3 linked regions of the Homo sapiens genome follow. The protein of the gene in region 3 interacts with the protein of the main gene of each other region in a pairwise test. Each region holds a gene or a part of one and is shown on either strand. Other genes may lie near its edges.

What was found.
Region 1: the proteins of TRIM14 (region 3) and ERCC3 interact in binary tests that used the Homo sapiens proteins (3 or more experiments, as listed by UniProt).
Region 2: the proteins of TRIM14 (region 3) and SPG21 interact in binary tests that used the Homo sapiens proteins (3 or more experiments, as listed by UniProt).

The regions. Positions count from the first base shown.
Region 1 is NC_000002.12:127,259,887-127,263,296, forward strand, and holds part of ERCC3 (general transcription and DNA repair factor IIH helicase/translocase subunit XPB), read right to left. Parts: intron 1,461-3,410; coding exon 1,342-1,460; intron 1-1,341. UniProt on the Homo sapiens protein: ATP-dependent 3'-5' DNA helicase/translocase. Binds dsDNA rather than ssDNA, unzipping it in a translocase rather than classical helicase activity. Component of the general transcription and DNA repair factor IIH (TFIIH) core complex.
Region 2 is NC_000015.10:64,983,415-64,986,914, forward strand, and holds part of SPG21 (maspardin), read right to left. Parts: intron 180-3,500; 5' UTR 156-179; coding exon 93-155; intron 1-92. UniProt on the Homo sapiens protein: May play a role as a negative regulatory factor in CD4-dependent T-cell activation.
Region 3 is NC_000009.12:98,088,151-98,091,883, reverse strand, and holds part of TRIM14 (tripartite motif-containing protein 14), read left to right. Parts: intron 1-3,733.

The sequences.
Region 1 (3,410 bases), on a different chromosome or scaffold from region 3:
ATGAGCACGTGAAAATGAAAATGATAGGATATCAGGAAGATTATTTATAGAGCTTCTCTGAGAGAGTAAGAACAGCATGGTGGAGACTGGGTTTTCATTTCTATGGGGATAACTTACTACAAGGGCTCCCTATCCCTGCAGAAAACTTGGGTTGATTCTGTAAAGGGAATTCTCCTTCCCTCCAATTCTCATAATGTTCATTAAATGAAAATTCCTAGAAGTAAGGATCTGAGTCCTTCTGGGCCAGGGATCCAGAGTACAGACGATGTGCACATCTGCCCAGGCCCAGCCACTCCACGTCATGACTCTGGGAACTCCAACCACTGCTCCTCAACAGGCAGCACCGAAGACACAGCTCCAACCAACACAAACTACTACGGCATGGCATTGTGCCTTTTTGTCGAGGTCACCTTTCAAAGAATTGCTCTTTCTGACCTGGTGCTCCTCTTACCCTCACAGCTCGGCAGGAATCAGGAGGTAGGAATGCTATTACCAACAGGGATTTTCATGGATGGATAAAAAGGTCATGATGCAAATCCTCCAAAAAACTGGGCTCAAAACCCAAGCATCTTGTCCTCTAGGCCAGCATGAGAGGTCTGAAGTGTCACTGCCTCTAGCTAAAAGAGGGAAGGTCAGACAACCCTGTCCTCCTAAGGCCAATAATGGGAACTCTCACCAATGCATAAAGAGACACATTAAAAACGTATCTCAAAAGGCAGCCTGGATTGCAGTCTTTTGCAATCAAGAACCTGGGAGTCTAATGTTCTAGGGATGTCCTTTTAGTGGACCATAGGGGGAATTTAATTCCCCTACTTCTAGAACCCTCCATCTATCCCCAAAATATAAAGCCCTCTGGACACCAAATACTGACATAAACGTAATATTTGTGTAACAGGAAAGAAAGCAAATGCCTCAGCCAGTGAAAGTTAGCCAAAGCTTTAGAATTTCCCAATTATTAAAATACCTGATTTGTAGTACAGGATAGCTCTGATGTCTGGGAGGCAAACTGAGGCAAACTAAGGCCTGGAGCTTACCAGCTGATGAAAGGAAGAGCTCTCCTAGCTACCTAGAGAGGCATCCCTGAGAAAGCAGCCCTGCGGGGCTCAGATTCACACAGTGCTGGTCATAGTGCCATGGCACCTCAGTCCTGCCAGGACGGCACACTTTCCACCAACAGCTGCCCTCAGAGATTCATGCAGAGATAAAGGGAGTTTGAGGCAAGGCCTCTAATCTCCTAATGCTTGGTGCCTGCCTGCTGACAGTGGCCCTCGCTTCTCCTGGAGGCCAGGGTATCAAGAAGGCCTTGGTCCTAGTCTAACCAGAAGCCAAATGGATATGTACCTTGAAGCTATAACCTTGATCTACCAAGAATCTCTGCCGCTTGGTTGAGTAAGCCATTTCCTGTGTGTCCTGGGATACCAGTGAGTAGAAAAAGGCATTGTACTCTTCTGCAACCATCCCTGCAGGAAAAAATGAGAAACGGCAATAAAGAAGACAACATTAGCCATTAGAATGCCAAGAGCTAAGGGTCCCAGGCTCAAAAGCAAGCACTGGAGTGGAAAAGCCCTGCACTCGGGGTTACCACCTGAACTTGGCATGGGATTGCATCAAAATTTGGAAGTCTTTTGTGCTTCCAAGGACACCATCAAGTGAAAAAACAATCCTCAGAATAAAAAAATGTGGAAAGCATATATCTGATAAGGGATTTGTATCTAGGTTATACAAAGAACTGTTGAAACTCAACAACAAGACAAATTAATTATAAATGAGAGAAGAATATGAACAGATTACTTCTCCAAAAACAATATAAAAATAGCCAGTAAGCACATGAAATGATGCTCCACACCATTAATCACCAGGGAAATGCAACTCAAAAGCACAATGAGATTATCACCTCACGCCCCTCTCCGAGGATGGCTACAATCAAAAAAGCAGATAACTGCCACTGTTGTCAAGGATGTGGAAAAACTAGAACCCGCATGCATTGCTGTTGAGAATGTAAATGATGCGGCTGCTTTGGAAAACAGTCTGGCAGTTCATCAAAATGTTAAACACACTGTTATAACCACATGACCTGGCAATTCCACTTCCAGGCATAAATCCAAGAGAAATGAAACTATATCCACACAAAAATTTGTACATGAATTTCATAGCAGAATTCTTCTAAGAGCCAAAAAGTGGAAACAGCCCAAATGTCCATCAACAGATGTGTGGATAAATAAAATGTGGTATGTCCATGGAATCGAATATTATTTAGCAATAAAAAAGAATGAAGTACTGACAGATGCTACAATATAGATAATCTTTTTGAAAACATTATGCTGCCGGGTGTGGTGACCCAGTCCTGTAATCCCAGCCCTTTGGGAGGCTGAGGTGGGCGTGGATCACTCAAGGTCAGGAGTTTGAGACCAGCCTGGCCAACATGGTGAAACTCCATCTCTACTAAAAATAGAAAAATTAGCCAGGCGTGGTGGCTCATGCCTGTAATTCCAGCTACGCGGGAGGCTGAGGCAGGAGAATCCCTTGAACCTGCGAGGCAGTGGTTGCAGTGAGCCAAGATCGCCCCACTGTACTCCAGCCTGGGCGATAGAGCGAGATTCCATCTCCAAAAAACAAACAAACAAAACATTATGCTAAGTGAAAAGAAACCAGTCACAGAAGGCCCCAAGTGGTCTGACTGCATTTACATGAAATGTCCAGAAAAGGCCTACAGACATCAAAGTAGATTAGGGGCTGCCTAGAGCTGGGGGTTGGGAACAAGAGGAAATTAGGAGTGGCTGTGCATGGATGAGGGTTTCTTTTGGGAGCTGATGAGAATATTCTAAACATGAATTGTGTTGATAGTTGCACAACTTTGTGAATATTGTATTTCCTAGGTTTTCTTCGAGGATCCTTATAGTTTGAGGTCTTACATTTACATCTTTAATCCATTATGAGTTGATTTTTGTATGTGGTGATAGGCAGGGGTCTGGTTTCATCCTTCTGCATACAGTTAGCCAGTTTCCCCAGCACCATTTATTGAATAGGGAGTACTTTCCCCACTGCATATTTTTGCCAATTTTGTTGAACATCAGTTGGCTGCAGGTACATGGCATTATTTCTGAGCTCTCTATTCTGCTCCATTGGTCTATGTGCCTGTTCTGTACCAGTACCATGCTGTTTTGGTTACTGTAAGCCCTGTAGCATAGTTTGAAGTTGGATACTGTGAGGCCTTTGGCTTTGTTCCTTTTGCTTAGGATTGCTTTGGCTATTCAGGTGCTTTTGTGGTTCCAGATGAATTTTATAAGTTTTTTTTCTAATTCTGTGAAAAATGATGTTGGCAATTTGATAGAATAGTGTTGAATCTGTAGATTGTTTTGGGCAGTTTGGCAATTTTAATGATATTGCTTCTTCCAATCCTCAAGCACAGA
Region 2 (3,500 bases), on a different chromosome or scaffold from region 3:
ACTCTCAAACACTACTAAGACATGACATCTAAATCACACACAAAAACAATACAAGATTTTGCAAATAAGAGGTATAGTAAAACCATACATACCTTTTTAAGGGGAACTGTACCTCTAAACCAGTTATAATCAGGAGAGACTTTAATCTCTCCCATGATTAGCTGAAATGGAGGTTAATCCTGAAATAAAAGCATGTGATATTTCACGTCAAGAATTCATGTTTACATCAGAACTAAATGTAGAGTCTCATCTAGCTATACCAACAATATTTTAAAGAAGAAAGCCAAGGAAACTGGCTATTTTGTCAGTATATAGTCCAACTACAGAAAACAATTTGGTGAAATACTACAATCACAGAATCAGAAGCACTCTTTTTTTTTTTTTTTTGAGACAGTCTCAGTCTTGTTGCCCAGGCTGGAGTGCAGTGGCGTGATCTCAGCTCACTGCATCCTCTACCTCCTGCAGTTCAAGTGATTCTCCTGCCTCAGCCTCCCGAGTATCTGGGATTACAGGTGCCCGCCACCACGCCCAACTAATTTTTGTATTTTTAGTAGGGATGGGGGTTCACCATGTTGGCCAGGCTGGTCTCGAACTCCTGACCTCAGGTGATCCACCCACCTCAGCCTCCTAAAGTGTTGGGATTACAGGCGTGAGCCACCATGCCCGGCCACCAGAAGAGCTCTTACAGAAATTATTCCAACACCCTTAGTTCTTCCAGAAAAGGAATCTGGTCTAGAAAATTTAAATGACTTACCCAAGATCACATGGCAATGCTAGGACCAGATGTGAGACAGCCTTTTCTGACACCATACTTCCTGTCTTAGTTCTCAACTGCAGTACCATCAGTTATCTTTTGACATTACCTTAAGAATCCCTTTAATAAAGATGCTCCTGTCTGATTATAGGGATAGTCCACGCTAGAGAAAGGAGTTGATGTTTTTTTACTTTTTTAATTTTTGAGACAGTCTTGCTCTGTTGTCCAGGCTGCAGTTCAATGGCACAATCACAGCTCACCACAGCCTTAACCTCTGAGGCTCAAGTGATTATCCCAACCTCAGCCTCCTAAGTAGCTGAGACAATGGGCACACACCACCACGTCAGGTGAATTTTTTGGTTTTGTAGAGATGGGGGCCTCCCTGTGTTGCCTGCACTGGTCTCGAATTCCTAGGCTCAAGCAATCCTCCCATCTTGCCTCCCAAAGTGCTGGGATTACGGGTATGAGCTACCACACCCAGCCTAGAGAAAGAAGTTTAAGTTAAGCCTGCTTCCTGATAAATTCGCAATACACCATAAATCTAACTGTAATAGCACATAACCAGAAATTCACATGTAGTTCCCTTTTTTTTTTTTTTTGAGACAGAGTCTCACTCTGTCACCCAGGCTGGAGTGCAGTGGCGTGATCTCAGCTCACTGCAACCTCCACCCTCCAAGTTCAAGCGATTCTCCTGCCTCAGCCTCCTGAGTAGCTGGGATTACAGGCACCTGCCACTGCGCCCGGCTAATTTTTTGTATTTTTAGTAGAGACGGGGTTTCACCATCTTGGCCAGGCTGGCCTTGAGCTCCTGACCTCATGATCCACCCGCCTCAGCCTCCCAAAGTGCTGGGATTACAGGCATGAGCCACCGTGCCCCGCCTACATGTAGTTCTTAATACAAAATACAGGCAAATTTGCCACTCATATGGACGTGATTAAAAGTTACACAATGTCCTCAGAAAGATCTATAATGTAAACTTGAAGGCACTATAACTAACAACAAAATGAAACATTTGCCCTTAGGAAAAAATGTGTAGTCTTTTGTTGTGAGCTTAGTGACTTCTGGTTTTCATAGCTCTGTGATCTTAGATAAGTCTTGATCCTTTTGGAGTTTGTTTCCTCATCTATGACTGTGTTACCACTGTGTCCCCAAAGCTTAGATCAGTGCTTGGCACACAGCAGGCATTATCTGTTGATTGAACGAATAACTACATTCTAAGGAGAATGAAGGGGGCCATCCTTCTAACCCTGGCATCTGTGAGCTTTGGCCTAGCTGAACATCCTCAACTAAAAGGCTGCCCCTCTTTGCTCAGGCATCTGTGCTATGTCATAACAGGAAACTGAAATTATAGTTCCCTGTTGCAGATTCTTATTGCCAAGTGAGGAAATTCCACCAGGAAGGATTCAAATATTTGCTTTGTACCACTTCCTCTACCTCAAGAGCAAGCCTTGATCCTAGCACGGCTAACACGAGGTGAGATTCGTGAGACCTAACTCCCGGGCTGACTCTGAACTGTCGTTTTAGAGGGAGTTCTCTGGACTGGCAAGGAACAGGGGATTCTAAACTCAATGGAACTCTTCCTTGGTGGCCCTCGAGATCTGCTCCCTCAGGAACACAGAGCCCTCAGTAGACTCAACTGTGACCTTGGAGACGTACTAAGCTGAACCCCGAGGAGACAGCAGATGTAGACATTCTAACACTAAACTTGATTTACAACCTTGACATTGTGATAATGGTCTCTCTTCTCAAAGCTAAGATGGTAATTTTAGAGAAGTGTGTTAAAATCATAAGTTGCTTTAAAGTACCAAGAAAATCATCAGCCAGTCTTATACTGAAAATTAGTGTGCACAGATATATATAGTGAAATAAAGAAAATTCTTTGCATATCCATTTTATCTTAAATATTAATATGTTAAGGCCAGGCACAGTGGCTCACGCCTGTAATCCCAGCATTTTGGGAGGCTGAGGCAGGTGGATCACGAGGTCAGGAGTTCAAGACCAGCCTAGCCAAGGTAGTGAAACCCTGTCTCTACTAAAAATACAAAAATTAGCCTGGCGTGGTGGCGCACGCCCGTAGTCCCAGCTACTCAGGAGGGTGAGGCAGGAGAATCACTTGAACCCGGGAGGCAGAGGTTGCGGTGAGCCAAGATTGTGCCACTGCACTCCAGCCTGGGCGACAGAGTGAGACTCAATCTCAAAAAAACAAACAAAAAAATTAATATGTTAAAAAATTTTGCCAGGCGCGGCGGCTCACACCTGTAATCCCAGCAGTTTGGGAGGCTGAGGCAGGTGGATCACCTGAGGTGAGGAGTTCAAGACCAGCCTGACCAACATGGCGAAACCCCATCTCTACTAAAAATACAAAAAAAATTAGCCAGGCATGGCAGTGGCCGCCTGTAATCCCAAATACTCGGGAGGCGAGGCAGGAGAATCGCTTGAACCCAGGAGGCGGAGGTTGCAGTGAGCCAAGACTGCACTCCAGCCTGGGTGACAGAGTGAGAGTCTGTCTCAAAAACAAAACAAAACAAAACAAAACAAAACAAAAAACAAAAAAACAAAAAACAAAAAAAAACTAAGCCATTTTAACTATAGGCTTTCTCTAAGCTGATTATAACTTTTAATTGAAAGCAACTAGCACATATACTTAATTCTGGAATATTTTCTACCTGGACAGACTTGAAATACTTCTATATCATCTAAATACTTCTTAATGGAGACATTTCCTAGTATTGCATTATTAGAAAC
Region 3 (3,733 bases):
GGTGGAGACGGTGGAGATGGTGGGATGTTGGGTGGAGGAGGATCATGGAAATGGAGGTCCCTCTTTTTTTCTCATTAGAATTTATTTATTTATTTATTTTAAGAACTTGTTTTTTAAAAAATGTTTATTATTAAAGGCAATAAAACAATACATGTTCATTGTAGAAAAATTAGAAAATGAAAGAAAAAAGTTACTCATAATCCCTCTTCTGTGAATAACTGCTATTATTATTTGTCCTTTTAGCTTTTTTAGCACATCTAATATGCATATAATGATATATTTAATATATCTTTTTATGTTACAAACGTGGTGTCATACTATACATACTGTTTTGTCATCTGTTTTCATTTACTGATATATTATGAACATATATATATTTGGGATTTATACAGTGAGCCACTGTGCCCAGCTAATATTATCACTATGTGTGTGTGTGTGTGTGACCGAGTCTTGCTCTGGAGTGCAGTGGTGCAGTCATGGCTCACTGCAGCCTCGACCTCTTGGGCACAAATGATTTTCCCACCTCAGCCTCCCTCATAGCTGGGACTATCAGTGTGTGCCACCATGCCCAGCTAATTTTTTATTTTTATCATTGTTTTTAGAGGTTGCATGGCATTGCATTGAATGGATGTGTCATATTTAGCCAATCTCATAATGTTGGATGTTTACATTTTCATTTCTAAAACAATGCTGTAATAAACATCCATTCTTGTACACATTTGTTGAATTGAATTAATGAATGAGAGAATGAACACACCATACCTCATTTTCAGATTATTTTTTAGGAGTAATTTCTCAAGTGGAATTACTGGGTGTCAACCTAAAAAAGACTCAATCTAAAGAAGGCTCAGTATCCAGTTAGCAGAGTTTATTCAAGTGCAAAGTAACCATCAGGAGACAGAGGGAAACCAAAGAATGGTGATCACTGCCCCTGGTGTTGGGAGGGGGACAGTGAATATCAAAACAGAGGCACTGAATAAATTTACATTTTCCATACAAAGGCTAACATACTGATTTAAAGGCCGAGCACGGTGGCTCACACCTGTAATCCCAGCACTTTGGGAACCCAAGGCAGGTGGATCACTTGAGGTCAGCAGTTCGAGACCAGCCTGCACAACATGGTGAAACCCTGTCTCCACTAAAAATACAAAAATTAGCTGGGCATGGTGGCATGCACCAGTAGTCCTAGCTGCTCAGGAGACTGAGGCAGGAGAATCGCTTGAACCCGGGAGGCGAAGGTTGCAGTGAGCCGAGGTCGCACTACTGCACTCCAGCCTGGCAACAGAGCAAGACTCCGTCTTAAAAAAAAAAAAAAAAAAAAAAGTGCACAAATCAAAAATGTGCAGATCAATCAGCTCAATGATTTTTTAAAAAGGAAACATATTTTGTAACCACCTTCAGATCAAGAAATGGAAATTTCCACTCCCCAGAAGTCTTCCTCATGTGCCTTCTTGTTTACTATCCCCAAAGGGGATCCACTCTCCAGACTTCTAGGACTATAGGTTAGTTTTACCTGTTTTTGAACTTTCAGTAGATCATTCACACTATACCCTTCTGTGTTTTGCTTCTTTCACTCAATATGAGATTTATCCATTTTTGTATATTGACATACTGAGTGGCTGTTATAAATTCACTTAGTACTTCTAAGCTATCTACAGATTATTTGGGTTTTTGTGTAAATAAGCATGTCACCTATGAATAATAATCTTTCATTTCCCCGATCTTTATTCTTTCCTTTCACTTCTTTTTCGTGCCTTGAGTTACTGTCTACTACATTTAGAACATTGTTGAATAGAAGTGGTTATAATGAGCAGCATTTTCTCCCACCTTAGACATATATCCAACAGAAATGCATACATATGTGAATCAAAAGACCTGCACAAGAATGTTATGTGACCGAAACACAGGTTCAGTTGCTCAACGCTTTGCAGAGTTCAATTAACAAGAGCGAGGTCTGGTATAAAGAAAGTGGTTTTATTCTAAAGATTAGCTTAGGGGAAGAGGTACAGGCTCCTCCTGCCCTTAACGGTACCGCCTCACTTTTGGGGCAGAAAGCAGAGGCTTTTAAATGGGGACTTTGTATGAATGGCATGCAGGGAAGGAGCAAGCAGATGGGGGTCTATATGACTCATTTTGATGCGTTTTCTACCAAGTGGTTGAGCTGGTGCCATTGAGGGCAGAACTAGGTTGTAATGTGGCCGTTGTCTTGAGATGCTGTCCGGGTGGAAGAGTTCTGTTGAAGGCATACTTTATGTTGTAAATTGACTGTTGTCTCTTAAGGCAATCTCCTGGTGGGAGAAAGTTCTGGTTCTAGACCCTCTAAGTAGGTAGATAAGTTTGCCCTGTAGGGACTATCTGGTGAAGGGAAGGTAATGGTTATAATTACATTTCTAAAGAGCTAAGTAGAGGCAGGGCACAGTGGCTCACACCTGTAACCACAGCACTTTGGGAGGCTGAGGCAGGCGGATCACCGGAGGTCAGGAGATCAAGACCAGCCTGGCCAACATGATGAAACCCTGTCTCTACTGAAAATACAAAAATTAGCCAGGCGTGGTGGCAGGTGCCTGTAATCCTAGTTACTAGGGAGCCTTAGGTAGGAGAATCGCTTGAACCCAGGAGGCCGAGGTTGCAGTGAGTCGAGATCACACCACTGCACTCCAGCCCGGGCAACAAGAGTGAAACTCCATCTTAAAAAAAATAAAAATAAAGAGCTAAGTAGGAAGTGGGAGACAGGAGAAAAAGGGGGAAAATCTTAAAAATAATTCATTCTCTTTCTCTTAGAAAAATGCTCTTTTTCTTAGAAAACTCAGTCTCTGTTACACGTTTACAGTTATAGCAACATTAGTCACAATAGGCAACACGGAAACAATCCAAATGTCCATGGAAAACTGTTTGGCCTTGTTTATGAAAGCTGAATATCCACATACCCTGTGATCCAGACTTAAAAAACAACAACAACAACAACAAAAAAAACTTCATGTGTACATACATGGTGTAATGCAAAGAGAAATGTTAATGAGAGTTTAAATCACTACAAACTTTGGGGAGGATAGTTTTGCAATATGTATCAAAGACCTTAAAAAAATACCCATTGACCCAGCAATTCCTGTTTTAGGAGTATATTCTACAGAAGCAATCAGATACGTAAAAATGTAATTGTATTAGTGGTTTCAAAAGCTTTTTAAACGGAGGACTAAGTTATGCGTCCAAACATCAAAATTTTAGAATCTCCACTAAAATGCTCTTGTGAAAGGATATTATGATGTGTCAAAATGCCTCACAAGTAGATCAATCAATTTTAAAAAGCAGATTACCTAACGTCATGTATGGTGTGACACCAATATTAAGAAAAGCTATAAAAATTAGCCGGGCGTGGTGGTGGGCGCCTGTAGTCCCAGCTACTCGGGAGGCTGAGGCAGGAGAATGGCCTGAACCTGGGAGGCGGAGCTTGCAGTGAGCGGAGATCGCGCCACTGCACTCCAGCCTGGGCAACAGAGCGAGACTCCGTTTCAAAAAAAGAAAAAAAAGAAAAAGAAAAGCTATAAAGCAGCAAGGGGAGGGGAAAGATAGGAAGTACACACACCCTAATGTTAACAGTGATAGGATTAGTTTTAATTAAATTTGTATTAATTGGCAACAAATTTCACGGCACAAAATACAGACAGTATAAGGGATGTGCAGCAGAGTGATCTCTTCTTCCCCTTTCCCCAAGACCCCGCCCCAGGGGCAGTCG